Regions from separate parts of the Homo sapiens genome. Here region 2 is linked to region 1. The links come from fine-mapping of genetic effects on gene expression. A gene starts in region 1. The other region holds a variant in brackets. All regions are shown on one strand. Distances are between the middles of the regions.

Region 1 (15,966 bases):
TTTTAAGTACACGCTCAAAGCTGTCCCAGTGGTGGTGACAGGTGAATCTCGTAACTCCGAAGGTAAATGCAACACACCGTGCTGGCAGACCCAATCAACACGCTGGGCCTGCCAAACTATCTCAACTTCCCAACGGGACTCATTAATACCCACTGATTTTAACAGAGCAAGACGAGACGGGCGCCGAATCCCGCCGGAGGACTCCGCCGCGCCTCCTCCCTAACTCTGAGTCAAGTATCTGGACGGGCGCGGCTCCCCAGCTCCCGCGCGGAGGGTGGGGTACAGCAGGAAACGTTCCCCGCAGGCTGCCTGGAGAAGGCAGGGGGCCGCTGGGCTCCGCAAAACGGTCCCGAGGGCAACCACGGCCCCGGGCCGCCCAGCCCGCGCGGCCTCCGCGTCCCAGTGCCCTTGGTGCCCGGCCCGGCCGGCGCGCCGCGCCCCTGCCTTCCAGGCCGCCTCTCTGCCCGCCAACAGACTCCTCACCCGTCGGGGCCCCGGCTCGGCCAGACCGTACCTTCTGGAAGGCGGAGAGCGAGCGGCTGAACGCCCGAGACACACAGCGGGATCGGGACAGCATCACGGCGGAGGAGCCGAGGGCGGGCGGACACCGGATATAGGGCCGGACAACAACCGGAAGTGGGGCGGGCCGCAGTACCCGCCGCCCGACGAGGGGTGTTCGGAGCGAACCACTGGCAGGGGGTGGGCGCACGGCGGCGCCCAGTATCCCGGCTGCAGCGCAGGAGTCCCGCTCTCTGGAGCAGGCAACCCTAAGGCGCTCTTGGGGCCCTCCGCACTGCCTGTCAGCCTGAGGTGGTTCTCCTGAAGGTGTATACGACTGTCCCGCCACCACATTGCCCCCGGGGTCAGGCCTTCCCCTACCCTTCCACAGAACTGGCTCTGAGCTTGGCGCCCTTCTCTCTTGGGACCCGAGGGCACCGCGCCGTTCCGCCTCTGTACCTTGGGAAGAGAGCAAAAGAGGGGCACGGACATTGAACTGAAACCTTGGCAGACATGCATGCCTGATCTTACACTTGTGTGGCCTGGGGCAGATGACATTGCCCCCCACCCCCAGTCTCAGGTCCCTTAACTATTAAAAAAAAAAAAAAAGGCACTTGTTACTTCCCTGTCTTCCTAACCCCGAGTCAAAGAAACAGAATCCCAGGAATTTCTAAATCCCATTGCCTTTTTACGAGTCGGATATCTTCACCAACTATAGCCTTATTTCTCAACAGCTTCTGATCTCCCCCCAACGCAAATTCCAGCCAAACTAATTGTTCCCCATACATCTTGTGCATTTTGGAAGTTGTTCGTTTGTCACCCTATCCCTAGAATATAAACTCCCAGCTGTTTTTTTAAGAAACAAGGTCATAGTTCACTGGAGCCTCGACACTCTGGGCTCAAGCGATCCCTCTGCCTCAGCCTCTGGAGTAGCTGGGACTACAGGTGCCACCATGCCAGGCTGACCTCCCCACTTTGAGTGTGCCATTCTTCCCGCTGACTTGAAGTGAAAGCATATAGCATCCCCTTCCCCTCCTTAAGTATTCAGGCCCCTTGAGTATTCACCTTTAAGGCTCACCTTCCTAATGAAAAAGATGTGCTTTAAACCTCTGGCTGAATTAGTAACACATAAATGTATGAATGAATGAATGAACCACTTGGTGCCGTTCATGATGATTTCTTTATCTGAGGCATTTTGCCTGGCCCTCAGGACCTTTATTTTTTATTTTTCTAATTAATTTATGTTTTAATATAAATTGAGACGGGGTCTCACTATGTTGCCCAGGCTGGCCTCAAATTCCATCAGGACCTTTACAGTGCCTTCACTCACCTGAACCCTGAAAGCACTGCCACTGAAATTCTGGAAGGATGGGCCAAAGTCCTAACTAGAAATAGAGAAAACAGCTCTGCCCTGCTGCTACCCACAATTAACTCCTCAGTAGCTTTCACCTGAATTATTTGAAAAGCTCCCTAAGCAGTTCTAAGCCTCCGCTCTCGCTTTCTCTAGCCCATCATCCTTTATATCTGTGTCAAAGATCCTTCTGAGCCTGGTGTGGTAGCTCACGCCTGTAATCCCATCACTTTGGGAGGATGAGGTGGGTGGATCACTTGAGATCAGGAGTTCAAGACCAGCCTGGCCAACATGGTGAAACCCCATCTCTACTAAAAATACAGAAATTAGCTGGGTGTGGTAGTGAATGCCTGTAATCCCAGCTACTCGGGAGGCTGAGGCAAGAGAATTGCTTGAACCCAGGAGATGGAGGTTGCAGTGAGCCAAGATTGCACCACTGCACTCCAGCCTGAGCAACAGAGTGAGACTTCGTCTCAAAAAAAAAAAAAAAAAGAAAGTAAAGAAAAAAAAGAAATCCTTCTGAAATGCAAACCTAATCCTGTCACTCCTCTGATTAAAGTCTTTCATTGCTTCTCCTGGTCGGATAAAGCAAGGGAGATAAAGTTTATCTCCCTTGTAGGATAAAGTACAAACTCCTCAACTTGGCCAGGCACCTGATAATCAGGCCTCTGATTATGTTCTGATTCTCTCCCCACATTCTCACAGATTGTGAGCTTTAGTCAAACCACACTACTGGCCATAGCCTTGCTGAGCTATTTGCATGGGCTGTTTCCTCCTCCTATTTGCCTAGGAACTCCTAGTCATCCTTTAAATCTCCTTCTTAATCCCTTCCTAACCCCTCTGGCAGAGTTAACAGATACATTTTCTATGCTTCCAAAGCACTGTGTCTGGGTTTCTACATTGCATTTTATTGTAATGTCCTGTTTACCTGTCTGTCTCCCATGCTGCATAGAGCAGCAGGTGGAAAGAGACCACTCTCTATTTTCCTGAATTTTCCAAACACAACACCTGGGACATCAGAGTTCCTGGGACTCTGTAGGTACTCAATAAATATTTGTGGAATGACTAAATACTTCCATGTTTACAACATTGGTGGACACAGCTGAAGAATCCAAGAACGGTAGTCAGGGGCTATGGCAATTTCTTGCCAGTGTTGCTGTTAATATTTTTCTTAGATAGCTACCCAGTCCTTTCACGGTCTTTTTTTTTTTTTTTTTTTTTTTTTTTTTTTGAGATAGAGTCTTGCTCAGCTGCCCAGGCTGGAGTGCAGTGGCATGATCTCATCTTGGCTCACTGCAACCTCTGCCACTCGGGTTCAAGTGATTCTCCTGCCCCAGCCTCCCGAGTAGCTGGGACTGCAGGTGCGTGCCACCATGCCCAGCTAATTTCTGTATTTTTAGTAGAGACGGGGTGTCAGACAGGGTGTCACTGTATTTTTAGTAGAGACAGGGTGTTGGCCAGGATGGTCTCAAAATCTTGACCTCATGATCCGCCTGCCTTGGCCTCCCAAAGTGCTGGGATTACAGGCTTTCACAGTCTTTAACAATTTTTGAGATTCTTATAGAAGGTGTAGAGGCTTCAGGCTGGGCACGGTGGCTCACGCCTGTAATCCCAGCATTTTAGGAGGCTGAGGCAGGCGGATCACGAGGTCAAGAGATCAAGACCATCCTGGTTAACACGGTGAAACCCCGTCTCTACTAAAAATACAAAAAATTAGCCGGGCCTGGTGGCGGGTGCCTGTAGTCCCAGCTACTAGGGAGGCTGAGGCAGGAGAATGGCGTGAACCCGGGAGGTAGAGCTTGCAGTGAGCTGAGATCATGTCACTGCACTCCAGCCTGGGTGACAGAGCTAGACTCCGTCTCAAAAAAAAAAAGATGTAGAGGCTTCAAGACTTCAAGCCTGGTTATAATGTGGCAAAGCACTTCTGGAGTTTTAGTGATCACCCAAGTTAATCTTAGATATTACAGTCTAAAGACACCACACACACACACACACACACACACACACACACACTCGAGCATGGTTTCATACAAAATCCCATTGAGAGGGTAAAAGTTGAAATTGATTTCCTCGAGATTCACATACGAGCTTCCATGGACTCCAAGCTGCAACCCAATAAGCTAGGGCACTCCTTCATTTAGAGCTTCCCAAGACACAGCACCATCTACTGGGGCAAGAGTTTATGAATATAAATTGTGGCAGGGCTCAAAAGAGAATTTTTTTTTTTTTTTTGAGTGGAATCTCACTCTGTTGCCAGGCTGGAGTGCAGTGGCATGATCTTGGCTCACTGCAACCTCTGCCTCCTGGGTTCAAGCGATTCTCCTGCCTCAGCCTCATGAGTAGCTGGGACTACAGGCGCCCACCACCATGCCCGGCTAATTTCTGTATTTTTAATAGAGACAGGGTTTCACCATGTCGGCCAGGATGGTCTCGATCTCTTGACGTAGTGACCCCTCCACCTTGGCCTCCCAAAGTGTTGGGCTTACAGGCGTGATCCACTGTACCCGGCCCAAAAGATAATTTTTAAAAACATTTTCATTGTAAAATACGTATTAAAAAGGATATAAAAATCTATGTGTCCAGTTTAAAAGAAAAATAATAAAAGGAATTCCCATACTTGCTGCCCAGCTGAAGGAATGGAAAAGTTCCCTGTGGTCTCCTCCATCATCACACCCAGTTAGCCACTACTATACTGAATTATATATTAACCATCCCCTTGTTTTCATTATAGCTTCAATATGCTTATGTTCTATACACATTTTTGCCTGTGTTTTTAAATTAAGAAAAAGATGTCTCCAGCAGTGGTCTGATATAGAAAAAAATAAAAAATGAAAATGAAAGATGTATTTACTTTCAAATTAAATAAGAAAAAAGGTGTGTTTTTAGAAAGGATTAAGTAGCTCATTTACCTCAAATCCCCCGGTTTTCTTATGTGTGTTCTGAACCATACATTCACATCCTTGCCTATGAGTTTATGAATATTATCGGCCAGCTAGTAGATGGGGCTATAGCCTATGCTTCCATCTTTGGGCTCCTTAAAATAGGGACTATGCCCTATATTCACTCAGTGTTACCTATGATACCTAGATTCCATCTATCTGTCTATCTCTTCATTCAGTTGTAATTCAAAATAATGGACTGATGAATACACAATGAAAATCTAGACATGTTTTTGTGTGGGTATTTTTTTTTGGTCTATTTTTTAACTTAGTAGAAATGGAATCACAGTGCCTGTATCATTCTGTAACTTACTTCTTTTTTTTTTTTTTTTTTTGAGACGGAGTCTTGCTCTGTTGCCCAGGCTGGAGTGCAGTGGTGTGATCTCGGCTCACTGCAAGCTCTGCCTCCCAGGTTCATGCCAGTGTCCTGCCTCAGCCTCCCAAGTAGCTGGGACTACAGGCACCTGCCACCATGCCCGGCTAATTTTTTGTGTTTTTTAGTAGAGACGGGGTTTCACCGTGTTAGCCAGGAGGTCTCAATCTCCTGACCTTGTGATCCACCCACCTCGGCCTCCCAAAGTGCTGGGATTACAGGCGTGAGCCACTGCGCCCACCCTTTTTTTTTTTTTTTTGTAATGGGGTCTCACTCTATCGCCCAGGCTGGAGTACAGTGGTGCAATCTCGGCTCACTGCAACCTCTGCCTCCTGGACTCAAGCAATCCTCATCCTCCCACCTCAGCCTCCCAAGTAGCTAGGACCAAAAGCACATTTTTTTTTCTTTCTTTTTTTTTTTTTTTTTGGTATTTTTGGTACAGATGCGATCTCTCTATGTTGCCCAGGTTGGTCTTGAACTCCTGGGCTCAAGTGATCTGCCCGCCTCAGCCTCCCAAGGTGCTGGAATGACAGGCGTGAGCCACTGAGCCCAGCCTCTGTGACTTACTTCTTTCAGTCAACATTGTATTTTGAGGATTTGTCCACGTTGATGAGTTGAGCTGTGGTTTACTAATTTTCATTGCTGTATTTCACAACATCCCCTCCACTTCTCAAGCTGAAGGAGGAGGGGAAGGCAAAATTTGGGTTACATTCGGGAGTAGGTGGGTTTGGCCAGTGAGTTCTCCCAGATCTGTCAGGGATGGGTGCTTTTGGCCCAGCAGCAGCTTCCTCAGCAGTGTTCAGGCCTCTGTGGGAGGGAGGGACCACGCAGCCTCTCCTTCCTGCAGATCTGAGATGCCATGGTTTGCTGTTGGGCTGATTCCAGTCTTCTCAGGATGCTTGAGGGACAGGGAGAGGATGTTCATATTGGAGCTGCCTCTCTGGGGAATTTGAAAGCAGAAGTCAGGAGCTTCCCGCTGGAGGCCAGAGCAATGAGAGAAGCTGGGTGATTCAGTCCCCAAGTTTTCAAAGGGCTCTGTGGTCCATAGGCAAAGACAGAAGAGATGGCATTTCAGGAAGGCCCTCTCTGAGCTGGCTTTTCTGGGCACCTGAGTTGGGGTGGCGTTGAGAAATGGCATGGGGGCAGCCAACCAGCTGGCCTCAATTTGCATATTCATAAGCCCCCCATGCCGGTTGGCTGCGCTAAGCAGCCCCCACTGTCCCCAGAGTCAGCGGCTGCAGCAAGACTGGGTCTGTCAGACAGTGCCTTGTGCTAAGAAGGGGCCAGAGCCTCCCCTCACCCAGCCACGGGCACCCGGCCTGCCTGGAGAGGAAGCAGGGAAACCAGAAGCACTTCCTGACCATGGCTCTGTCTGCCCAGGGCTGGTGAAGAGTGGGCTGCTCCGTCTTCTAGAGTGGTTGGCCCCACCTGGCCACAGAGCCCAAGACAAGGACCTCCCAGAGGACCTCTTCCCTGTGAGTAACATCATCCTTTCCATTTACCTTGCCAGAGTACTTTTTAAAAAATTATGGAACATTATGAAAATTGTCAAATATGCAGAGAAGTAGACAGAGTAGCATAGCAATACCCACCCCTATACTCATCACCTAGATTTAACAATTGTTCATATGTATTTGCTTATTTTTGTTGGCTGAAATACTTTCAGGCAAATTATAGACATGGAGACATTTCACTCCCTAATTCCTCACTCCATAATACTGTGTATGCATCTCTGGAGCCCTTTTGAAGCTCTTCTTTCATTAGATTCTCACCCAAGTTCTCAGTGAAGGGATGATTATCATCTCCATTTTATAAAAGCTGAAACGCAGAATATGCGGCTTTAGGGCCAATGACTGGGAGTAGTGCCCAGACCTCCTAACTCCCAGCCCAAGTGCTTGTACAGCCACATGAAAGGATCTCTGATGTCCAGGGGTGTTTTCCTAGAGAGCAAGGAGGCATTGCAGCTGCTGTGTGACCTTGGGCATGTCACCTTACCTCTCTGGGCTCCTGGTTCCTCATCCATAAAGTAAAGGCATGTCATGAAGATCCTCGGACCCCTAACGCTAGCCTGTGACATTTCCCTTGGTTTTTAGAAAAATGAGAAAAGACAATGTAAAGAGTTTTTCGCAAAGCTAAACTTATTTGCATATTATGCATTTCCCCCTTTTATTCTTTTAAAAACAAAGTGGTTAAGATTTTATTTTATTTATTTTTTATTTTTTTTTGAGATGGAGTCTTGCTCTGTTGCCCAGGCTGGAGTGCAATGGCACGTCTCAGCTCACTGCAACCTCCACCTCCCGGGTTCAAGCAATTCTCCCTGCCTCAGCCTCCTGAGTAGCTGGGATTACAGGCATGCACCACCACGCCCAGCTAATTTTTGTATTTTTAGTAGAGACAGGTTTTCACCATGTTGGCCAGGATGGTCTCAAACTCCTGACCTCAGGCGATCTACCCATCTCAGCCTCCCAAAGCGCTGGGATGACAGGCGTGAGCCACCCCGCCCAGCTAAGATTCTTTAAGAAATAAAAATCATGTGTCATGAAGGGAGATGAAAAAATTTTAAAGAGGAAATAAAAGTGATGGTAGATAGTAGTCTTTTGTATACTTATTTTTTGTGCCTTCACCTGCAAAATAAAATGTCAGTAACTCTCAAACTGGTCCAATATCTTTCCTCTTCGTTTCATTTTTTATTTTTAGTAAACCAATTTTTATTCATTTTAAATAAGTTTTAAACTACTTTTGTTTTGGGGGCTTTTAAAATGAAAACTGAGTTAGGTCCACTCCAATGCCCACTGATTTATTTTTAGGAAATTTGTATAGGCCGGGCGCGGTGGCTCACGCCTGTAATCCCAGCACTTTGGGAGGCCGAGGTGGGTGGATTACGAGGTCAGGAGTTCAAGACCAGCCTGGCCAAGATGGTGAAACCCTGTCTCCACTACAAATACAAAAACTAGCTGGACTCGGTGGTGGGCGCCTGTAATCCCAGCTACTTGGGAGGCTGAGTGAGAAGAATCGCTTGAACCCGGGAGGCAGAGGTTGCAGTGAGCCAAGATCACGCCACTGCACTCCAGCCTGGCAATAGAGCAAGACTCCATATCAAAAAAAAAAAAAAAAAAAACTTGTATGATGCTGGCAGGTCATCCCAAAGCTCTGAAATCATATCTATCTTGATTTCCCATTCTGCAGCTTTCTTTTCAACATGTTCTCTGAGGATTTGTGTAAAGAATATACTGCTGTTCTTGCCATTTCCAAAGCGGTCTTTAGAAAAGCCATATCTATCCCTTTATTATTTTTGGTCCCAAAAGGCGGATTCATAATTACTGTATCAAATGACTTGACATCCTGTTAGATAACAGGCACACATCACATTGAACCATGTCAATATTTGTTAACTCAAACTCTTCCACATTCCTATTAACTATTTCCAATACATCTTCATCTCTGTCAAATCCAACACAGAACCCTGCTCCTCACACTGCAGTTCCCATGCTAAGCATTCCACCACTACAGCCTAGATCTGCAAAAACTTCACTTTCAATGTCATCATAAGTGCTATGGATTGCATACAGCATACATGCTGCAATGTGAAGCTTGGTGGGATACTGTTCTAGAAGTAGCTTGGCCTTTTCGAATCCATCCACTTATTGCAGGTGACTCTCTAGTTCCTTAAGCCTTAATTCCTTCATTTTGTTTTTTTAAAAATATGGACTCTCAGGGTTTGAAGGCACAGGATCTCAGGAGGCGACTGGCACCTTGGCCGGGGCCAGAAGACCTCTTCATTTTATTAATGGTTGACATCTAAAAATATAAAAATCTGGAGACCAGCCACTGTACCAGATGCTCCTAAGCCCTTTCCAGCTCTGGAGTTCTATGGCTGTGGGGGCTCCTGAACCCCCCCTAGGAGGAAAGGAAACCAGTTTAAGGAGTGCCTATTTCCCGCACCAGAGAATGCAAGGCCCACCACATGTGATCCTCACCACAATCCTAAGAGAGTGACTGTTATCAACCCCATTTTACAGCCAGAGAAACTGAAGGGGAAAAGGCAGAGTTAATTTGTGTAAGTTCACATAAGAGCTAACAAAGGGCTGGGCGCGGTGGCTCACGACTGACTGTAATTCCAGCATTTTGGGAGGCCAAGGCGGGCAGATCATGAGATCAGGAGATTGAGACCATCCTGGCTAACATGGTGAAACCCCGCCTCTACTAAAAATACAAAAAATTAGCTGGGCATGGTGGCACGTGCCTGTAGTCCCAGCTACTCGGGAGGCTGAGGCAGGAGAATCACTTGAACCAAGGAGGTGGAGGTTGCAGTGAGCCAAGATCGCCACTGCACTCCAGCCTGGGTGACACAGCGAGACTCCATCTCAAAAGAAAAAAAAAATAGCTAACGATTCCCCCCAGGTCTAATACCTGGTAGATCATTCCATAGTTCACAGCCATGCAGTGGTTGATGCAGACCACCAGGGCTTCTGACTCCATTGTGTCTGTGTCTGTGGATGGACAGGGCTGTGTGGCCTGGGCCTGTCAGTCTGACCCCCTCTCCTCATTTCTGTCATTAGCCAGTGCAGTGAAGAGAGCCTGTTCAGGGCTGGACCAGAGATGGATGGGTGGCCTCCGACCTGTAGCAGAGTGGGGACAGTGCAGGGGGCCTCTCATCATAGAGAATAAAACAGGACAAGGCTGTATATGAAAATGCCTTTGAAAAGCATAAAAACGCTATGTGACTTTGAGATGTGCTACCCTGAACAAGTCTTCATCAGTAGCAAAAGTTAGCTCTGTCTGGCAAGTATTTGGATGGGCGGCTGTTCAGGAGTACAATGGGTAAGGCAAAAATGTATTCATATACAGATGTGATTAAGTCATCATTATTATGAAATGCCAGTGGTGGGCCCTTAGATCCCATAATGAGTGTTGATGAAGGTAAAAGCAGCTGTTTCAGGATAAGGCATTTTCCTCCATACCTTTCCAATCACGTTGGGTGGTCATCTACTAAGCACAAGGCTGGTCCAGTTGGAATCCAACTGAATCTAGGAAATGAATGAACAAAATACTGCAAAGAAAAACATGTTTTCCCAACAAAAACCAGGCAGGAATTTTATCAAGGAAATAACAATAAAACTGCTTGTATAAATCTGATTTGAGCTTCAATGACAGTGATGAGAATGAGTTAGCATCTCTTGGGCTTCACGAGGTACCTTTTACCTAAGGACTCTCCATAGCCCACCTTGCTTTATTGATTGGTTCTCTTGTGACCCAGCTGAAGCGCATCAAAGGTGTTTGCTGTTCCCTAAATGTGTACACATCACAGAAGGGGAGACATGGCCTGTGAGCTGCCAGTCTCACCTCAGCTGGCCTCATAGGCAGCCCTTCCCCTTTGTCCCACTTGGGCAGAGCTTCGGGAGCTCTCCAGGGATATTCCATGGAAGGACATAGACCCACAGGGAGAAAGGCTGCCATGTAGGAGGTGATCTGTGCAGGTGATGATGCCACAGACACTGGCTGTTCCTTTTCAGCTCATGCCCCGGTGCTCTAACACAAAGCTGAAAGGAGACAACACACAACTTCTCTCGTATGTTCTTGTTTGTTTGTTTGTTTGTTTGAGACAGGGTCTTGCTCTGTTGCCCAGGCTGAGTGCAGCGGTGCTATCATGGCTCACTATAGCCTCGACCTCCTGGGTTCGAGGTCCTCCCACCTCAGCCTCCCAAGTAGCTGGAACCACAGACAGGTGCCACCACATCTGGTTAATTTTTTCTATTTTTTGCAGAGATTGGATCTGATATGTTGCCCAGGCTGGTCTCGAACTCCTGGGCTCAGGTGATCCTTGAGCCTTGGCCTCCCAAAGCACTGGGATTACAGGCGTGAGCTACCACATCTAGCCTTATGTCGTCCATTATATACTTGAAATTCAAACTCACCCTCATTTTACATTTTCCAGCTATAAAATCCTATGTGCCTTCGCAGTTATCTTATAAGCCCTGTGTTCTATGCTTGTGTTTGTAGCTAAATTTGCTTCTCCAGTGGGGTTTTTTATTTCTGGTACCGAGGAATATGTATCTGGGAAAGAGTTAATGAGAAAAAAGTGCAGTTTTTTTAAAAAAAATAGACTTTATTTATTTTACTTTATGTTTTTAGAGACAGGGTCTTACTTTGTTGCCCAGGCTGGAATGCAGTGGCTATTCATTGGCATGATCGTAGCACACTACAGCTTTGAACTCCTGGGCTCAAGCAGTCTTCCCACCTCAGCTTCCTGAGTAGCTGAGACTACAGGTAAGCACCACCACATCTGTCTAGACTTTATTTATTTATCTATCTATTTATTTATTTTTTTGAGATGGAGTCTCGCTCTGTTGCCCAGGCTGGACTGCAGTGGCTTGATCTCGGCTCACTGCAACCTCCACCCCCGTGGTTCAAGCAATTCCCCTGCCTCAGCCTCCCAAGTAGCTGGGATTACAGATGCATGCCACCACGCCCAGCTAATTTTTTTGTATTTTTAGTAGAGACAGGGTTTCACCATGTTGGCCAGACTGGTCTCGAACTCCTGACCTCAGGCAATCCACTCCCCTTGGCCTCCCAAAGTGCTGGGATTACAGGCGTGAGCCCCTGCGCCCGGCCTAGACTTTATTTTTTAGAGTGGTTTTAGGTTCACAGCAAAATTGAATGGAAAGTACAGAGATTTCGCATATATCCCCTGCCTTCAACATGCATAGCTTTCTCCATACATGCAAATGTTTAATTAACAAAGGCAAGATTGCCTTTTTTCATTACAAAACTGAAAACATATCCATTAAAAATTTAGAAAATTCAGAAAAATAAAAAGAAAAAATAGAGAAAAAAATTACCTGTGGTTCTATTACCCATAAACAACATTTTGATGTATTTATTTCTCTATAATGTATGGGCGTGTGTGTGTGTGTGTGTGTGTGTGTGTATTTTTTTTTTTTTTTTGAGGCAGGCTTTCCCTCTGTTGCCCAGGCTAGAGTGCAGTGGCGCAATCAGAGCTCACTGCAGCCTCAACTTCTTGGTCTCAGTGATCCTCCTGCCTCAGCCTCCCTAGTAGCTGAGACTACTGGCACAAGCCACCACAATGCCCAGGTGATTTTTTTTTTGGAGAAACAGGGTTTCGCCATGTTGCCTGGGCTACTCTCAAACTCCTGAGCTCAAGCAATCCTCCCACCTTAGCCTCCCAAAGTGCTAGGATTACAGGCATGAGCCACCATACCTGGCCTCATATTTTTCTTTGTATTTTTAATATCTAATTTTCTCTTACCCCCCCACTCCAGTTTTATAAAATAATGTTACATAAACTTTACTTAAACACTATTTTTCAAAACGGTTGCATAATATGGCATCATGTAGATTATACCATACCTTAACTAGTGCCTACTCTTATTAATAATACTTGGATGGCCATCTTTGACATAAATTTATGAGTCTAGCCATCATTTTCTTGGCTTAACTTCATAGACATAGACTCACTGATTCAAATGGTATAAACATTTTTAAGTTTCTTAATATACAATCCATGAATATTTCCAAAAAATATATGAAAACTGAGCAAGATTACTGAGAATCAAAGAAATACACATAATGAGGTAACATTGTCACCTACCATAACGGCAAAGATTTAAAAGACAATGCCCAGCGTTGATAAAGATAAGGAGATGTATGTTCTTTTATAGATACATTGGTAGGAGCATAAATTGGCTATTTAAAAGTATATATATACAAGTAACACACGAATATATTCTTGTAAAAATTCAATTAATATAGAAATACACAGAGTAAAAGTTGAGATCAGGCATGGTGGCTCATGCTTGTAATCCCAGCACTTTGGGAGGCCAAGGTGGGTGGATCACCTGAGGTCGGGAGTTAGAGACCAGCCTGACCACCATGCAGAAACCCTGTCTCTACTAAAAATACAAAATTAGCCGGGTGTGGTGGTGCATGCTTGTAATACCAGCTACTTGGGAGGCTAAGGCAGGAGAATCGCTTGAACGTGGGAGGCAGAGGTTGCAGTGAGCCGAGATCACGCCACTGCACTTCAGCCTGGGCAACAAGAGCTAAACTCCATCTCAAAAAAAAAAAAAAAGTTGAAGGTTCTGCTTCAGTCCCTCCTCTCTACCCCCAGTCAGTTGGTACATTTCTGGAGGACAGTTGGAAAAGAAGTAGAACAGTTTAACGTAGTCTCAGCCTTTGATGCAATATTTTCACTTCTAGAAATGTAGTCCCCAAAGAAATATGTAGGAGTGTTAATCCCAATATTATTCATAATAACAATAGCTACAACTTATCAGCAATAAGTAAGTGCCAGGAACTGTTCTAAAAATATAACATGTGTTAACTTATTGGATCCAGATGTGAATTCCACAATAACCATAGATATTATGGTTATGCCCATTTTACTGATGAGAAAACTGAGGTACGGAGAGGTCACAAACTTAGCTAAGTGGCTCTAGGGATTCAAGTCTAGGCAGTCTGATTTGTGGGTCTATGTTCTCCATCTATCTCCATACTATCTTATTTTTTTTTTTTTTGAGACGGAGTCTCGCTGTCGCCCAGGTTGGAGTGCAGTGGCGTGATCTCGGCTCACTGCAGGCTCCGCCCCCCTGGGTTCACGCCATTCTTCTGCCTCAGCCTCCCGAGTAGCTGGGACTACAGGCGCCCGCCACCATGCCCAGCTAATTTTTTGTATTTTTTTTAGTAGAGACGGGGTTTCACTGTGTTAGCCAGGATGGTCTCGATCTCCTGACCTCGTGATCCGCCTGCCTCAGCCTCCCAAAGTGCTGGGATTACAGGTGTGAGCCACCGCGCCCGGCCTGTCTATGCTTCTATAATAGTGAAAATATAAGAAGGAATCTATCAAAGGAGAACTTGTTAAGTAAATTAGGGTACATCTATACAATGGAATATTATCAGCTTTCACAACGTTGCTGTAGATTGATATTCATCCACATGAAAGATTTAAAAATGGAGGCATAAAACTATATATCTATAATACCATTTTTGTTTATATATATATATATATATATATATATATATATATATATATATATATAATTACGAGAAATTATAAACTTCTCTGTACATGGAGAAAAGAGCTTGGCAAAAATGATGAACACCAAAATTTTAACTGATTTTCTCTGGGAGTGGCATTAGAGTGTCTTTCTTTTCCTCTTAATACATTTCTATATTTGGGAAGTAAAATGATCCTACATTACTTTCATCGTCTAAGAGATGCAATAAAGCTATTTTTAAAGGATTATGACAATTGCTACCTCCATCAGTGAATATGAGAGTGCTAGTAGCTAATTTTCAAACAGAAAGCATCACTGCTTCATGCAGACTTACCCAGATAAAGGGCTGTGGGCAGCACGCCGGCCTCAGCACAGAGGTTTCCTGTTTCTCAGCAGCCCAGAGGCAGAGTTTCCATGATTGCATGGGCGTAAACATCTCTGGGTACCCAGCCACAGTGGAGTCTGGCTGGATTTCCAGTTTCTGGCCTCAAGATATTTCTGTTCATTGTTGCTTCATTAAACACACTGGTCCCATCTGTTACCCTAGTAGATCTGTCTTCTGGAGCACACAGACTACACGGAACCTCAGAAACAATACCTTGAATAACCCACAAGGGAGATTCAGCAGCTTTAGTGGTTCTATGCTCTTCTCCTCAATGACTCTATCTACCCGTCTGTCTTTCTGTCTGCATTGATTTTGTTCCATGCACAAGCCTCCATGCTAGGTGCTAGAGAGATCTGAAATAAAGTATTGTCTATTGAGGAGACAAAAATCAATATAAATGAAGTATTTATGGACAATTTATTCAATGGAGTTAGCAAACATCTGGTAACATCTGGCAGTCAGGCACTACTTGGGAACACAAAGAGGGAGCTCACAGACCAAAGGGGAAGATGCATTGATCACTTCAGAGAGGAAGTGACATTTCAGTTGGATTTTGAAAGAGGAATAAGAGTTTGTCCGTGGAAAAGTGGGAGAAGGGCTGGTCGGGCCAAGAGAATGTAAATGCAAAGACACGGAGGCTGGAAGGAGCCTGGCCTGTTCAGTGAACACAAAGTCCAGGACAGCTGGACACAGGCAATTGTTGAGGGTAGTGGCTCCAAAGGAGTTAGATCGAGACCATGTTTGTGAAGAGCTGAGACATCTGAACCTTCTAGTCCACAGGAAGCTAGCAAAGACTTTGATTCCATAGAGGGGCATAAGCAGAGCTAGCTACATTTTAGAAGATTAATACCAGTGGCAATGTCATGGGGAAAATGGAAACAATCAAAAGAAAATTTCCACCAGTTCCCATCACATTTATCCACCTGCCTGTACTGGTGTGCCTCCACTGCTCTTCCTTTTGCTGCATGGATGAACTGAGCATTCCCCTGTCTAAAGTCAATCCCTCCTTGTGTGCACTAGATCTCTTCCCCTCCTTCCTACTCAAGCACATGGCTCCAGAAATTCTCCCCCTCTTGCCTACATTAACATATTTCATCTTTCTGCAGCAACATTGTTATCAGCCTACAAATATGCTGTTATTCTGCCTATCTTGAAAAACTCTCTCTTGACCCCATTTTCTCTTTCAGCACTGTCTCATTTCTGTCCTCTTTACAAAACTCCTTGAAAGAGTTGTCAGATTCAATGTCACCTACTCCTCTTCTTGTCCTCTCCCTTAAATCCACGTCAATCAGGCTTTTTTCTCCCTGTACTCCACCAAAACTGTTGATCAAGATTCCCAGTGACTCCACATTACTAATTCAAATGGCCAATTTACTATCCCTTTGTGACTTGGCCTCTCCCTCCTC
Region 2 (15,966 bases), 28 kb before region 1:
GATGTCCACATCGTGGGTGGGCGTGAGAATCACAGCTGTCTCCTCTGTCGCTGTTTCCTCCAGCGTTGGCTCTTTTCATTTTTCCGGGTTGTGCCGATCCCTTGGGAGTGGCCAGACAGGGTGGTGGTGACTGAAGTTATGAGGACAGGAACTGGGCCATGTAGCAGATACTGATGGTTGTATTGATGACTTTTTAAAGTGAGGTGCACATCTGGGGTCATGACATATAGTCATCATAAGTGTGTGCCTGACTTTTCTTTAAATTTCTTTATATCGGTCTCCCTAAAAACAGTGTTCACACTAGTGAACCCACCACCCAAACCACAGACACTGATAGTGCTGGACATCTCTCGGTGGTGTGCCAGTTTGTAAGGCTGGGCCCACTTTAGTTGGGTCAAGAGGAGGGCAGAGGGCATTCTAAGCTGAGGGGTGGGAGGGAGCAGAGGTGAGGGGCTGAACTAGGCCAGGACACCCAGAGGCGGAAAGTCTGCGCCCAAGACAGAAGGGAGGCAGGAGTGGGAGCCGGCCCTGGCATCCATACTCTTTTTCTCCCTGTCCCCACGCTCACCGCTCCCTCTGCATGGCCCAGGAGGCACTCTCTGGTCCCACCTGCTCTCCCAGGCGCACTCCCGACATTCTGGGCTCAGCTCTGGCTCTACCCAGGAGAGGATGAAGGCTCAGCTCAACCCCCACCTCAACCTCCTGACCCCAGCGAGGCTTCCCTCAGGCCATGCCCCTGGCCAGGACAGAATCGCCCTGGAGCCTCCTAGGACTTCTCCGAACCTTCTCCTAGCTGGGGAGGCCCCATCCACCAGACCCCAGAGGGAGGCTGAAGGTGAACCCACAGCCAGGACCAGCACCTCTGGCTCCTCGGACCTTCCAAAGGCCCCAGGTGGCCACCTGCACCTTCAAGCTAGGAGGGCTGGCCAGAACTCAGACGCTGGGCCCCCTCGGGGGCTCACTTGGGTTCCTGAGGGGGCCGGCCCGGTGCTAGGGGGCTGTGGCCGAGGCATGGATCAGAGCTGCCTGTCAGCAGATGGGGCCGGCCGGGGCTGTGGCAGGGCCACCTGGAGTGTGAGAGAGGAGCAGGTGAAGCAGTGGGCGGCAGAGATGCTGGTAGCGCTGGAGGCGCTGCACGAGCAGGGGGTGCTGTGCCGGGACCTCCACCCCGGGAACCTGCTCCTGGACCAGGCAGGTAGGTGCCCTCCTCACCCCTCAGTGGGGTGGCCCCCAAAGCGTCCAGGCAGAGGACGAGAGATCCCCAAAGTCGAGGGGACCTCCAAGGTTGTCTGCTCCTCCCTGGCCCCAGCCAGCCTTTCAGGGGGCCTAGGCTGGAGTCTGTTGGCCGAGGCTCCTGGGAGTACCCTGTGGGCTCTGTGGGCCTCAGAGTGCTGTGCCTCTGTGGAGGGTGCTGTGCCCCTGCCGAGTTTCTGCCCAGCAAGGCCATTGGCTCCTACCGCATGACTGTTGGGGGAAGCCCTGCAACCCCCTCCCCTGTATCAGCTGTCCTCAATCTGTCCCCTCCTTTTTCCTCCCACACACTGGAGGTCACATCCGGCTCACATATTTTGGCCAGTGGTCAGAGGTGGAGCCCCAGTGCTGCGGGGAGGCCGTGGACAATCTCTACAGCGCCCCAGGCAAGAAGGGGGGAGGCCAGGGTGGGCCTTAGCACCTGGGTGCCTTTGTGTGGGTTGTGCCCAGAGTCTGAGAATGACAGAGCGGGTGGGTGGTGTCTGGGTAGGCTGAGGAGAATGGAAGAGGCCCTCTTAGGTGAGGCTGGGACACCTGTGTTCTTGTTCCCACAGAGGTGGGTGGGATTTCCGAGCTGACGGAAGCCTGTGACTGGTGGAGCTTTGGGTCTCTACTGTATGAACTGCTGACGGGAATGGTGAGTGGCTGGGCTGGGTGTAGTGCCCTGGTGGGTGCCACTGAGTGTGGGATGGGCCAGGCTTAGTCCATCCAGCCAGTCTGGGCAGAGACTGCCTGGCTGTCCTACCAGCACAACTGCCCCCGAAGCCAGGGACACACTTAGCACTCCCAACACATTAGTTGGCTATAGCTAAGGAGACTGTCAACTTCTATGAATACGAGTAGAGTGGGATGGTCAGGGAAGGTTTCTGCCAGAGAGCCTGGGCCCAGGTGGTGTCAGATTTGGAGGAAGCGCGGAATGTGACACAGCCCTTCTTCCCTGGAAGGCTGTTCAATCATCCTGAGCCCGCTGTTCACTCCTCCCACCCATGACCTCGTTGGCTGTCACCCCCAGACCTTAGCTGGAGGATGGGAGAGAGGGGCTCTTTCACCCAGGCAAGCAGCTGCCCTGTCCAGCCTGGGTCAGCCAAGAGCTCAAAAGATCCCCCTGCAAACACTCCGGGAACCTGTGTTTGCAGGTTGCAATCAGAGCAGGCACTCTTGGGAACAGTTGATGGCTCTGCCTTCTGTCCTCCCCTCATGAGCTGAACACTGCAACTGAGGCCAGTTATGTAGGCAGCAAGGGGGAGGCCAAATTGCATTTGAGCAGGAAATAGCCGAAATGGATGCAGCGTGAACTGAAGTCCAGAGCTGACCAGTCCATCCAGGCTCCCTCCTGCTTTCGTCCCATGGCACGGGGTCCCGAAAGTCCTGGCTGCAATTTCCCCCAGAGTGGCTCTCTCTTTTCCTGTCTCCTCCCACCTCTCCAGCCCAGAGCTCTTGGCCTTCCTCCTGGGGGTTCCTGGAAGCTCATACTTCCCTCCAGACAGACCCTCTGCTCCTCAAAGCTGTGCCTTTCTGGGGTGTGGAGAGGTCCTATTTTCTTTTATTGCCACGCCGCTGCCTTGGCCCCGATGGTAGCATGCCATGGCCTGCTGCCAAATGAACAGCCCGTGTGGATTTTTAAAATAAGGAGACAAGTTCCATCACTATTCCCAAGAGTGCCTGCCCTGATTGCAACCCAAGATAGTTGCTTCTAGCAAGCTTGGAGCCAAGAGACCTAGGTTCAAACCCTGAACTCAGCACAAGTCCCTTTACCTCTCTGGGCCTGTTTCTTGCCTTTCGTGGATAACATAAAGGCACTGCTTAGCCATCAGGCACTGTGTCTGGCTGTAGCAACTATCATTATTGTCATCCTCCTCATGGGCTGTGACATGGGGAAAAAAAATCCTGGCTGCCACTGGAGTGTAGACGGTCCTGGGGTTGCCTCCTCAGAGGCCCTTCCCTGTGTCCTCCCAGGCACTGTCCCAGAGCCACCCTTCAGGAATCCAGGCCCACACCCAGCTCCAGCTGCCCGAGTGGCTCAGTCGCCCAGCGGCCTCTCTGCTGACTGAGGTGAGGTGTAGCCCGGCCAGAGGAAGCAGCTGCCTAGCCTGAGGAAGGTGCTGGGAGGGGCACAGAACTGTGTCTGAACCACGTGTGCTTCGTGCTCAGTGTCTGATGTGGGTGCAGAGGGCAGTAGGGGCAACACATTTCTATATGTTGGTGGCCAACCACCACCAATGTTCCCAGGGTAAAATGGGGGTTCTGTGGGCCAGGCTGCCAGGGAGCAGGCCCCCTAGAGGCCATAGTGGTTGGAGTCCCTGGAGGTCACCCCATGCCTCCACAGCTGGAGTGGCCCAGCTGACTGGGCCTCTCTCTGCAGCTGCTGCAGTTCGAGCCTACCCGGCGCCTGGGCATGGGAGAAGGTGGTGTCAGCAAACTCAAGTCCCATCCCTTTTTCAGTACCATCCAATGGAGCAAGCTGGTGGGGTAAGAGGGCAGAGCGGGTGACGGAAGCAGCTGGCCTGGTCTGGATCGCCTCTCCTCCTTGCCTGACACCCAACCCAGGGCTGGCCCTCTATCAGCGGGCTTTGGGCGAGGAATGGAGGGCACTGTCTGTCCTGCTGGGCTCCCACTGGGGCCTCAGAATTATGGCCACCACCCAGGAAGGGCCAGCTCCTGGAAAAGCTGGAGGTGGGGGCAGTCAAGGCTTGCCCTGCTAAGCAGCTTGAACCATCTACCCATCAGTCAACAGACCCGTTGAGCATGTGGACTCACCATGTTAAAGGTTGCCTTCTGTGGCACTGGCGCTGAGCTGTTGACCACCTGCTGCACCCTACTGTGAGGTTCTGTGACTCACTCACTGCCATGTTGTGCCCCACTCAGGACATCTCTGGAGACTCATCTCAGGACACTGATCCACTGGCTCAGTGGACCCAAACCAGACTGTCCTGGCTAGTCCTCTTAGTCACACAGCGAGTAGGCCTCTTCCACCAGAAGCTGTTCGTGCAGCTGGGGAGGCCCAGAAGCAGGGATGCCATCTGTTGTGCAGGGAGGGATGAGGTAGGGGACAGGATGACCCCCACCCCCACCCCCCCACCCCCGATTCCTGACCATGCCCCCTATCTTGTGATTTCAGACTTGGGAGAGCAAAAGGGAGGGGAAGAAAATAAGAGTAATGGGGGGAGGAAGGAATGCATGGGTCTGCCCCTTAGAGCAAGTCTGAAACCAGAATCAAGAGTCCTCCTCCCCAGTGGGCCTGTGTGGGGGAAGAGGGGCAGCCTGCCCCAGGGGTGCAAGAGGACAGCAATTCAGCTTCCAGGCCAAAGCAGTTTAGACAAGGTGTGCCCATCAGGACTCCCTCTCAGGCCCTGGCTGTTTACCATGTCACTGCCTACTGTGACTTCATGCCCTTTTGGGATAAGAAACCACAAAACGCATGGAACAACTATCCATGGCTCTTAGCCAGAAATGTCTTGCCTCTGGTCTCTGAAAAGCTGGGGTGAGTGGTTACCTCAAAGACAATTGCCTCCAGTTTGGGGGCTCCTCTCAGGGTTCACCCTGTCACCGGGGCGTGGGACCGACCTGGGAAATTTCCACTAGAGTTTTGCCCTCAGCTCCTCCCTGCCAGCATCCCAGTCACCACCAGGTGGCGCTTCTGACACGGTCCACGTGCCTGGCTCTGAAGGCCCAACTGTCAGACCAGACCCCTCACTCATGGTGGGGAGACTTGACTTCCTCGGGCTCTTCAGGAGACTGAGACAGAGAAGACAAGTGAAAGCGCAGCCTGTACATGACTCTCTGTGGTCCACGTCCTGCCTCTCCCTGGGGTTTACACGGCCCCAATAAAGCCTGCTCTGGCCTACGGTGTTCTCGCTTCTTCCATGCAATGACCACGGCTCATTGGGGCAGGTTGGAAGGCTCCCCTGTAGAAGCTCCAGAGTGAAGTCAAGAGCGAGCTTGGGGCTGCCAGGAAGTAGGACGCAGGGCTGGTGGTGAGCAGCATGCCATGTGGGCCTCAGGGGAAGGGGTGGGGTCGGGGAGGACCAGGTTCTGTGGGGAAGAGGATGAAGAAGCCTTGGAAGAGGCTCATGGTGCCTGGGGGAATACCAGTTTCATCCTCACAGTGACCCCTTGCAACAGACGGTAGCTCCTGAGAAAACTGAAGCTCAAAAAGGTTAAGGACACAACCTAGCCAGAGTTGCAAGTTAGTGTTCCTTCTGCTACTCTCCCTAAGTCAGGCTGGACCACTTCCAACCACCGCTTCATGAAGCACAAGTCCCTTCTGGAACTTCTGTGCTTCATCCACCCAAAGCTACACATCTGACACTTTGTTGGGCCCTGAGTTTAGAATACTGTGGGTCCCAGCTCTTACAGTCGACCTCCTTTCGATAAAATGGGGTAAATAATGCCTATTTTGCAGGTTTACCAGATAGATAAATTAAAGCTTCTAACACCAAATCCTGTTCTTCCTTTCATTCAACCTAATTTGTTTTTCTATCTACTAGAGCTCTAGTTCTACTCTCTGGGACCCACTTCCCTCCTGTGACAGACCTTCACAGAGGGATGGCCTCACTGCAAGAGCTCAGCAGACAGGGACTCTGGAAAAGACAAGGCTGTGTTTAAGCCTGGACTCCATCACACCTGCCACCTGCAGTCTAGGTTAGCTACCCACCCTGTACACTCACGCTCACTGACCACTGCTCCTAGGTCATCAACCCTCACCTGTTCATGTGTATTGACCTTGAGCATCTTGGTCCACAAGGCTATCAAATCCAAATGAAATGAGATGCCCCCACTCCTCCCAAATCCATCACTGAAATAATGTAAGCCCACACAAAAAATGCAAGTCTACTGGTGTTTTGAAAGGGCTTCACAAAGATGGTGACCCCAAATTCTCTATTCTAGAGTATGGCTTGACAGGCTCAAGGAAGGTGGGGCACTAAGAGACTATGATGCTTTATGGAAACAAAACAAAAAACATCCTAAGCCCCCCAACCATCTGTATGGACCCCTCGTCTCAGTCAAGGGTATTCCAAAGTTAACCTGAAACGCTAGTTCGGGCCATGGTGGGAAGAGGGAGCCAGCCATTCCTCATTATACTCCCCTCCCTTTTGGAATTACTGTTAAAACAGGCTCCTTAAGTCTGATGAGAAGCATTTACAATCTATTTTCTCTGAAGCCTGCTGGCTGGAGGCTTCATCTGCATAAAACCTTGGTCTCCACAACCCCTTACTGTAACCCAGACATTCCTTTCTATTGATTCCAGGTCTTTAGATAATAACTCTTTCAACCAATTGCCAATCAGAAAATCTTTGATTCTGCCTATGACAACATCCCCAGGTCTTGAGCTGTCCTGCCTCTCCAGACCAAACCACTGTACATCTTACATGTACTGACTGGTATCTTATGTCTCCCTAAAATGTATTAAATGTATAAAACTAAGTTGTAGCCAGACGACCCTGGACACATGTTCTCAGGATCTCCTAAGAGTTGTATCACAGGCCATCAGTCACTCACACTTGGCTCAGAATAAATCTCTTCAAATATTTTTACAGAGGTTGACTCTTTTTGGCAACACTTTCCCGGCTGGCAGTCAGGGTTCTACCTTCTGTCAAATTATGAGTGTTAAGTTCCACATAAGGGATTTCTGATTTCACAAAATAAGCAACAGGACCTTGAGTGGCTTTCAATAATTTCAGTGCAACAGTGCTGGGGACTTGTACCACCTCAGTAGCCAAAAGGAACAGATACAGGAACCCTGTTTGAGAATATCTGCCCTTTAATTTGCATTTAAAATCAGTTTCTTTAAATACTTTAGTTACAAGTTCTGAATAGTGAAGACAGAGTAGTAGATGCTGCAGGCACTCAGTATTGGCTCCCACCCCTTCCCCCCTCCCCCACCCCCAGGCCTCACTTCTTGGCTTAAGATACAAAAGGGCACTCTCTACTGGCCCTGGTGTCAAACGTCAGCAGCCTCAGGCCTGGATGCAGTTGGATACAAAGCCATGAATCCCAGTGGCTCCAAGGAATTCCAATGATTGTGCCCAGATCCACGGGCAACACACCTTAGAAATGACCTCATCCGTTTCACCACTAGGTACTAACACCCTCAGGGTGGTTTCCTACCCCAGTCCACGTCCTCCAGATCTGTGTCCTGCAGAGGAAGAGACAAGGCCCCGCTATAACGCAGGAAGGAACAAAAACTGCCTCCTCAGCCCAGGTGCTTACAGCAACTTAACTGAAAAGCTCAAGGCAATGTGAGTCAGTCTAGAGGAGACCTCCCTTCCCTAGTCTCTACCAGGCTCTGGCCCTTCCTCGGGACCACGCTTGGTCCCACTGCCATGATGTGCTAGAATCTGCTCTAAGAACAAGGTGCTAGAATGAGGCCCAGCAACCAGCAAAGGGGTTGGAAAGGGTTGCTACAGCCCCAGCTGTGTGAGATTGTGCCAAGACGAGTCTTCTTGGTGTCAGCCTATGATGGAGAGCGTGAGGGCAGGCCTGGGCTCTCCTTCTATGATGATTACAATGCATGACCTCAGGGGACCTCTGCCCTCTCCTCCCACTCACACACCCAGATCCCCTGGCCTGTGCTTCCTGGAAGAGGTAGAAGAGGCATCTTGAAGTCAATGACAACGGAGAATGAAGGTGCCATTGAAGAAGCAAAGCAGCACCTCTTTGCCTGTGTTCAATCCCTCCACACAAGTGGAATCAAGGGAGAATGTGCACAGCCAGGACAGAGGCTGCTCTGAGCTTGGGAGGCACAGCATCCTCCTAGAAGTCTCTGCAGAACAAACTTTCAAAAGATAGGAACTTAATCACATGGTCCCCAGGGGTTTCTCTATAGTATACCAGCACTAGGGAAAAGCAAAATCATCTTTGCAGAGAGCTGATGGAAGAAAGGCAGGAATATGAATGAGCATCCATTAAGGCTCTCTCTCTTAAGCCTAAGGAATTAAGATATTCGAGGCTATGAGACAGGTGCAGAGAGGGAGAGCCTGGCAGGAACGCCAAGAAAAGACCTGTGACTGCTGGTTACACAGTGCTCTGCTTCCTTGCTTGAGGCCAACAGCATGTGTCTGCCTGTCACCAGGCTAACCCGGGACCCATGAGGGGACAGGGAGAAGACTGGTTTTCAGTTCCTGCATGATCAACTTGTAGGGTGTGTGGGTTCCTCCTAAAGATCCAGGAGGAGGACTCTGGGATCCTCTACCGCTGCCTTGATTTTGCGGAGGAAAGTCACAGCCTCTCTGCCATCAATCAGCCGGTGATCATAGGTCAGTGCCACGTACATCATGGGCCGCACCTCTACCTACAGAGAGGAAAGGTAAATAGGTTTGTCTCCAGCAAGCCACAGCCAGCCTCGCTGAAGGAGATTTAGCACAGCCCATAAGAAAGTTCCTAATTCCAGAGCCTTTCCTATTGATGTTGCCTCTGCATATTTACAGTATTTCAAAGACCAGGACTTACCCTCAGTGCAAAGCTTCCCCACTCAGAAACAAAGTTTGCCAAGAAAACTGTCTTCTCACAACTGCCTTTTATTTTTTAAAAACATACTCTGCCCTCTAACGCATCTGCTGCCTACAAGGAAAGTTTTCCCTTCAGTTCTGGCTGCCTGTACTTGCTTCTCTCTGGGGTTAGAATTTAAAAAAAAAAAAAAAAATTAAGCCAGGGTCTACAAATTCTGGAATTGTATGTGTAGCTGGGTGTATGGGCATTTTCCAGGAAGATCTACAGACTGTGGTTTCACACAGGAGTCAGTAACCCAAAAGGATTCTAAACACAGGAGTTCCCAGAAAGCTTTTTTGATACCAACGTATCTTCTAAGGGCCAGCTCAAGCCCCTTTTAATACTTAATTCTCTGAACTCCCGGGAAATTTACAAGCTTTATCATACAACTTGGCAGCTCACAGACTGACATGCATAATTGTCATCTGTTTCCCAGGGGCAAGGGACCACGTTTCCAACTATATCCCCCACTCCATAGAAGCAAACAAGCCTCCTCAGCTCAGTGGTTCTCAAACTTGAATATGCATCAGGATCATCTGCACTTCTTCTTTAAGTCTGGGATGGGGTCTAAGAATATGCATTTCTAATAAGGTCCCAGATGATGCTGATCCAGACCACAATTTGATAATCAGTGCCTTAGCTATTAGAAACTAAGAAATGGAACTTAGGCCTGAAATTATAGTTAATGTTTTACAATTAGCATTTAGTTGGATTTCCCTTTCATCGAGACCTAGCCACTAGGACCTTAGAAGTGACGGTTCCTACCTTGCCTCCTATAGCCACTGGCCTGTCAAAGATGCCATGCATCCCCAGGATGGCAGACTGAGGGGGGTTGATAATGGGTGTTCCAAAGAGCGAGCCAAAAACGCCTCCATTGCTAATGGTGAAGGTACCGCCATCCATATCTTCAATGGCAAGTTCATTCTTTCGGGCCTAAAAACAGATTTCATAATTGAAATATCAAGCCAACCCAGTTTCCTTCACCTAAAGTCAGTCCATAATCCCAGCGCTTTGGGAGGCCGAGGCAGGAGGACTGCTTGAGGCCAGGAGTTCAAGGCCAACCTGGGCAACATAGTGAGACCCCCATCTGTATAAAAAACTTAAGAATTAGCCAGGCATGGTGGTGCACACCTGTAGTCCCAGCTACTTGGGAGGCTGAGGCAGGAGAATCGCTTGAGCCCAGGAGTGCAAGGCTGCAGTAAGCTATGACTCTACCACTCTACTCCAGCCTGGGCAACACAGCGAGACCCTGCCTCTAAAAACAAAAAAGCAAAGGAAGTCCAGAAAGCTTGTATCGAGATCGATGGCACAAGCGCTAGCTTCCGTGTGACAGTTGTTCGGCTAAGGTGTCTATGACCAGTGCTCCACCAGAGAAAAGGCACAATTTCATACAGTTGAAGACTTCAAAGATGATCTTTTCTAGCAGGTCTCATCTGATGAGATTTCAGTTACCAGAGCATGGTAAACTCCACCAGATATATAAAATACTTAGCTCTCATGGGCAACTGCTTTTCTCAGGGGCTATGCACTTGACTTTCCATGAGCACTGCTTGCTAGTGAGCCCAGCCTTCTGAAGGCTCTCTTCCCTCGCCTGCTTAGCAGCTTGTATACATCTTTCTACTTTACCTTCTCTCCCAGTTCAGTGATGGTCCGTTCAATATCTGCAAAATTCATAGCTTCCACATTCCTGATGACTGGAACCACCAGACCCTGAAGGGGGTGAAAAGCTGTTTTCAGTTGCAAATTAATAGTACCTTTTATAGTTAACAACTCCCTTGATTCAACCCATGGTATGCCCTCCCTAGAATACCTTCATTACTCAGTGTGATTAACAGAAAGTGTTAAAAGAATGCGGCATGGTTTAAAAGAAAAAAAAGGTTACTTTTACTAACTCCCTTCTAAAAATACAGAATTAAAGAAATGATTTCTCTTGTGTGATCTCCTTCACACAGATAAGGTGAGGGTCTAAGACCAACATTCCCCACCTCCTGCCCCAACATACCCGTGGGGTGGCCACTGCAACACTGATGTCAATATAATCCCTATACACCACCTCTTTGGTTGTGTCGTCAATCACTATGAGAGAGAAAATACATGTTACATACAACTCCCCAGGAAGGCCAAGACTAATGAGGTAATATGTGCATTAACAGAGTAAAAATCTGCAGAGCTTGATACAGTGTGGGCTGACCAACCACCATGAACACCACTGCATTATGCATGGCAGCTGGCATTCCACTTACTCCCATCCCAAGTATAGTATCTCCCAAGTCCCTGACTGAGCCTGGGCATAGGAGCATCCATTTCTTTGGCAGCCCTAAGAAGGGCTCAACACACTGGCTTCCATAGGATAGGTATGCACTAAACTCTCGTTAAGTAGCTCTAGTCAAGCCCTCCTTTAGCAGAGAATGACTAGGGTTAACAAATGTTCCAAAAAAGGGCAAATTAGCAAAGGAAAAGGGATATAGAGATACTACCCATTCTCTGCTTCCAACTCTCAACAAGAGGAAGAGGGGAGATCCAAGAGTAAGCGGGGTGATCTGGCTTTGAAATATGCTACCTCAAGAGATGGCAAACCAGCATCTGAAAATGTACACCTAGCAACTAATGGGAAAATAAAGGCTTGGGAATCATTTCCGCAGAAAGTCCATGTTGTATTGTTAGATAAGACATCCAGAGGAAGCATGTAATGTGAAAAAGAGGCCACGAGAACTTTTGAGAGCCGCCTACATGTGTGGGCAAGCAGAAGGGGGCCACTGAAAAAGATGAGAGCCAGTCAGGGAGGCATGAGAAGAATGGGAAAAAGAAGAGGTATACATTTGGGCAAAACAAAGATGGCCTTCTACCTCCCTAGAGCACCACTCAACAGGAGGGACTAGGGCTTCTACTTCTAGACCTTTAGGGCCCCTGACACTGCTGAGGATGGCAAAAGTAGCACTGACCCCTCTCCAATCTCCCAAGGAACAGAGAAGTGTGTCAACAGGAAAACAAAGTGCTTGTTAGGTCAACACTACAATGACGTAGGTAAGTAAAAAGGAAAGAAAATAAGCACCAGGTCCATGAGAGGCCAAGCCGAAGCTCCCAGTGAGGCCCATCGACCTAAGATCAAAGGTCAGCCAGGAGCCTACACCAACTGTGGAAGTCAGGCCCCAAGGTAACAGGGCCTGTGGAGCTGGGGGAGGGGAGGAAGCCAGAACACGTGCTTCCACCTTGACAGGAGACAGCCTGGAGAGCTGGGCTATCCCAGAACTGCCTGCTGCCTGAGCAGCTGCCGAGCTGTACACTGGGAAGAGAAACTGTTCTGCCCAGCTGGCGGGTAGAAAGTAATCATGATGCTGCTTCAGGAAGGTGAACCAAGAAATCCCTGGGGAAGATACTGATATTTCTATAGGTAGCAAATAAAAAGCCTTGGTCTGTTGATCCTCTGCATGTGGGAGCAGGTCTGTGCTCATACACCTACCTCCCAGGACCTCTCCAATTCCAGCCACAAGCAACTCACCTGCATTTACAACAGGCTGTTCCTGCAAGGCAAAGGCTGAGGCCTTCACAAATGCCGACATGAAGCCTAGTTTGAGGTTATGTTTCTTCAAAAAAGCCTCTTTGTGCCGAGCCCTCAT[C/T]TCCTGGATGTTACTGTGAAAATATTACAAAACAAACTGACCACAAAGCCTGCATTTTGACTTTCACACAGGTTTCTCAATCCATATACACAATTAGGTGAGAGCTTTTCCCTCACTCTGGACCATTACCTTAGTTCAAGTTTTGAAATAGTCTACCTGAGGTTAACACAGTAACTCTGTTCTTTTACAAAGAAATCTACAGGAATCAGGCCCAATCTGTCTTTAAGGTGGGTTGATCTCTTTACAGGGCTCCTTCATGGTCTAGAAGTCACAGATTTCAGTGACACATCATATGAACAAGAGATCACACAGCACACCAACATCCTTGCCCTGAATAACTGAGCTATCCATCCTGAAAAAAAATTTTTTAAAGTATAAACAAAATCTACAAAATAAGCAATATTCTTTTTATTTCTTGTTAGAATACAAAAAAAAAAAAAAAACCCCACCAAATCTGAGTATAACTCCCGTGTGATATTCCTCCTATCTCTTGATTAGTGGAGACTAAAATAAACAGCTCATGGGTACATGAGGCTCCATGCGGGAAAAAGCAGTCATGACTCTGCAGGGAAGGGTATAACCCAGTGTTCTTTCAGGCCCACGGAAAGTCATATCCGTTCTTCATCTTTCCAGGGTTGGCAGTTCCATCCACTTATTCTTCCAAACAGGTACTAACACCTTACTACATGTGAGGGTCAGGGCCAGGTACCAAGATACAAAGCTAATTAAGACATAGTTCTTGCCCTAAGATTAGTTTAATGGCTGTGATTTCCTTGGTATTTAGAAAAGTGGCCACTTGTGGTTTAGGCTGGTTCCCTTCAGATTAAGCAGCAAGCCTTCTGAAAAGCCTTTACAACATGAGCAGCCTTTATTCTTTTGGGACTGGTTTTTTTTCAATGACACATTGCAGAGTTAGTGAGAAATGGCTTTCCCATCACTTTGCTGCATAAACCTCAGTATTTATCGGAATGCAGTAATGCAGTTCTACGATGAAAATTGAATTTAACTTTATCTCAGGGCCAAATGCTCAGTTCTCCCTTTCTCCCTCTAATGGCCTAATTCGACATTAGCATGAAAGGTAAGATGTGGTACAATTTTAACAGCCCCCTTCAGATCTTTTGTTTTTGAAAAAGGAAGTTTTTCCAAGGGGGACTGATTGGGTTTAAAATGCTTGTTTTCCTGATTCTAACCTTATTTAGTGCTAGGATTACCACCCTAAAGACATTACTGGTTCCCAAGACACAAGAGCTGCAGAAGAGGGAAAGAGATGTGATAAACATCTCTGCTCTCAAACCTGCCCAAATGTTATTGTCTGGTCATTAAGTAGCTTCTATTTCAGAGCTCTGCCCTTGGAGGCAAAGGCTGGGACAATAGAGGAAGGGAGAAGGTCTCAGAAAGGTCCCTTATGGGTTAGCTGATCAGCACAAGACCCAAAGGGCACTCGATCTAAACCAAATTAGGCTGCAGCAAGACCGCAGGCCATTGTTAAGTGACACCTTGATTAGCTGCTGAAAGGAGATCCAGCTATTACGCTTCCTTTCCAATCAAAGCTGTTGGGCCAACTGCATCTTTCAGGGCCACAAATATTTACATGTTTTGTCTTAAGAAACTGGGTAGAATTTCAAAGTCCAATTCAATTTGTGTACAATTTGGCCCTAATGCACTGAAACATAAGCTGCAGCCTTTGTGATTCATTAGTCAAGGTCCTTCCCCTACATCCTATGAACAAGAGAGAAATCTTTGGCTTGAATGTCATCCAGTCTCTTCGGAAAGTTTCCCAACAGAATGGATGACATCTAGTAAAACAGGTCACAGAGCCCTACTCTGAACAATGCCACAGCGCACTATCAAGAAAACACTCCCTTCTCCCTATTTTTCAAACCCTTTCCAAAGAAAAGCAAATTTCTCTAATGAAAAGTAGATTCGCAGACTAAACCCTCAGGACAAAAAGAAAGAAAGAGATGACCTGAGACTTGACTTGCTTCCTGAATTAAATATAAACTCCTACCCTGGCATTCAAAACATTCTGAAATAAGGATCCAACCTTCTTTACCATTCTTTGCTATACAAAATCCTCACAACAGAAATGATTTTTGACAATTTCTCAAATGTGTCTTCTACTTTCCCATCTCATGGTCTACACTGTTAACATCATCTGGAATGACCTTTCTCCACAAGGCTGACAAAATGCTAGTCACTCTTGAAGACCTGTTTAAAAATTCTTTTTTGGCCAGGAATGGTGGCTCATGCCTGTAATCCCAGTGGGAGACCAAAGCAGGAGGATGGCTTGACCCTAGACGTTCAGGAGACCAGCCTAGGCAACACAGCGAGACCTTGTCTCTACAAAAACTAAAAAAATTGGCCAAGCCTGGTGGCACATGCCTGTAGTGGTCCCAGCCATTTGGGAGGCTGAGGCAGGAAGATCACTTGAGCCTCCCAAGTAGCTGAGACTATAGGTCCATGCCACCATACATAATTTTTTTTTTGAGACACAATCTCGCTCTGTTGCCCAGGCTGGAGTGCAGTGGCGCGATATCAGCCACTGCAACCTCCTCCTGGGTTCAAGCAATTCTTGTGCCTCAGCCTTCCGAGTAGCTGGGATTACAGGCATACGCCACCATGCCTGGGTAATTTTTGTATTTTTAGTAGAGGCAGAGTTTCACCACGTTGGCCAGGCTGGTCTCGAACTCCTGGCCTCATGTGATCCACCCACCTCAGCCTCCCAAAGTGTTGCGATTACAAGCGCAAGCCACCGCACCCAGCCCTCACTTGGCTAATTTTTAAATTTTATGTAGAGACAGTCTTGCTATGTTGCCCAGGCTGGTTTCCAACTCCTAAGCTCAAGCGATCCTCCTTCCTCACCCTCCCAAAGCTCTGGGATTATAGGCACGAGCCATGGTGCCCAGCGTCTATCCCCACTGAATTCCACAGTACAGTACTCTGTATACAGTACGCACTCAAAACACGTTTGTCAAATTTCTCTTCCTGACAGTGCTGATACTTGAACACATTGAAATCTTGAAGAAAACAGGTAAGTCAACAATTAGCTCACTACAGAAATGGGCATACCTAGTGAATTAGTACCTTTGGTTAACATTCTAAGGTTATTTAAAAACACAACTTGTTTTCCATTTCACTGTCAGAGCTGGGTAAAATGAAAGACAAGCCCAGCCTATCTTTGCCTTTTCATCCACTCGATTCTGAATCACTTAGGAAAATATGTAAGTGACGGGGTCAAACAATCCTCCCATCTCAGCCCCCCAAGTAGCTGGGGCTACAGATGTGCACCACCACACCTGGCTAATTTTTGTATTTTTTGTAGAGGTGGGGTTTCGCCTTGTTACCCAGCTGGTCTTGAACTCCTGGACTCAAGCAATCCGCCTGCCTCGGCCTCCCAAAGTGCCAGGATTACAGGTGTGAGCCACTACACCTAGCCAAGGCTAAGGTTAAGGTCATGGAGGAGGCAGGCATAGTATTAGGAAAGCCAATTAGAGAAGAAGCCAGCGGCTCACTCTGTGAAAGTTAACAATAAACAGGCCAGGCGCGGTGGCTCACGCCTGTAATCCCAGCACTTTGGGAGGCCGAGAAGGGCAGATCACGAGGTCAGGAG

The links.
Region 2: its variant is fine-mapped to the expression of PROX2 in whole blood (TOPMed, PIP above 0.99).

What each region holds. Positions count from the first base shown.
Region 1 is chr14:74,866,565-74,882,530 of GRCh38, reverse strand. PROX2 (prospero homeobox 2) reads left to right here and starts at 6,386. Exons shown (of 6, transcript NM_001243007.2): 1 at 6,386-6,636; 2 at 11,294-11,428. It overlaps DLST (dihydrolipoamide S-succinyltransferase), which reads right to left and starts at 615. Exons shown (of 15, transcript NM_001933.5): 1 at 515-615. The coding sequence starts at 577. It also overlaps the pseudogene METTL5P1. RefSeq lists silencers at 271-600, 457-683 and an enhancer at 5,942-6,441.
Region 2 is chr14:74,894,772-74,910,737 of GRCh38, reverse strand. DLST (dihydrolipoamide S-succinyltransferase) reads right to left here. Exons shown (of 15, transcript NM_001933.5): 11 at 12,239-12,369; 12 at 10,742-10,815; 13 at 10,366-10,449; 14 at 9,505-9,672; 15 at 6,995-8,542. The coding sequence ends at 8,408. RPS6KL1 (ribosomal protein S6 kinase like 1) reads left to right here. Exons shown (of 12, transcript NM_031464.5): 8 at 590-1,195; 9 at 1,548-1,637; 10 at 1,806-1,888; 11 at 3,208-3,303; 12 at 3,614-6,787. The coding sequence ends at 3,724. Among named protein-coding and RNA genes, the nearest start is that of RPS6KL1, 21 kb to the left of the region's middle. RefSeq lists a cis regulatory region at 11,841-11,854 and an enhancer at 11,775-11,919. The variant C/T (reference allele first, on the strand shown) is at 12,357.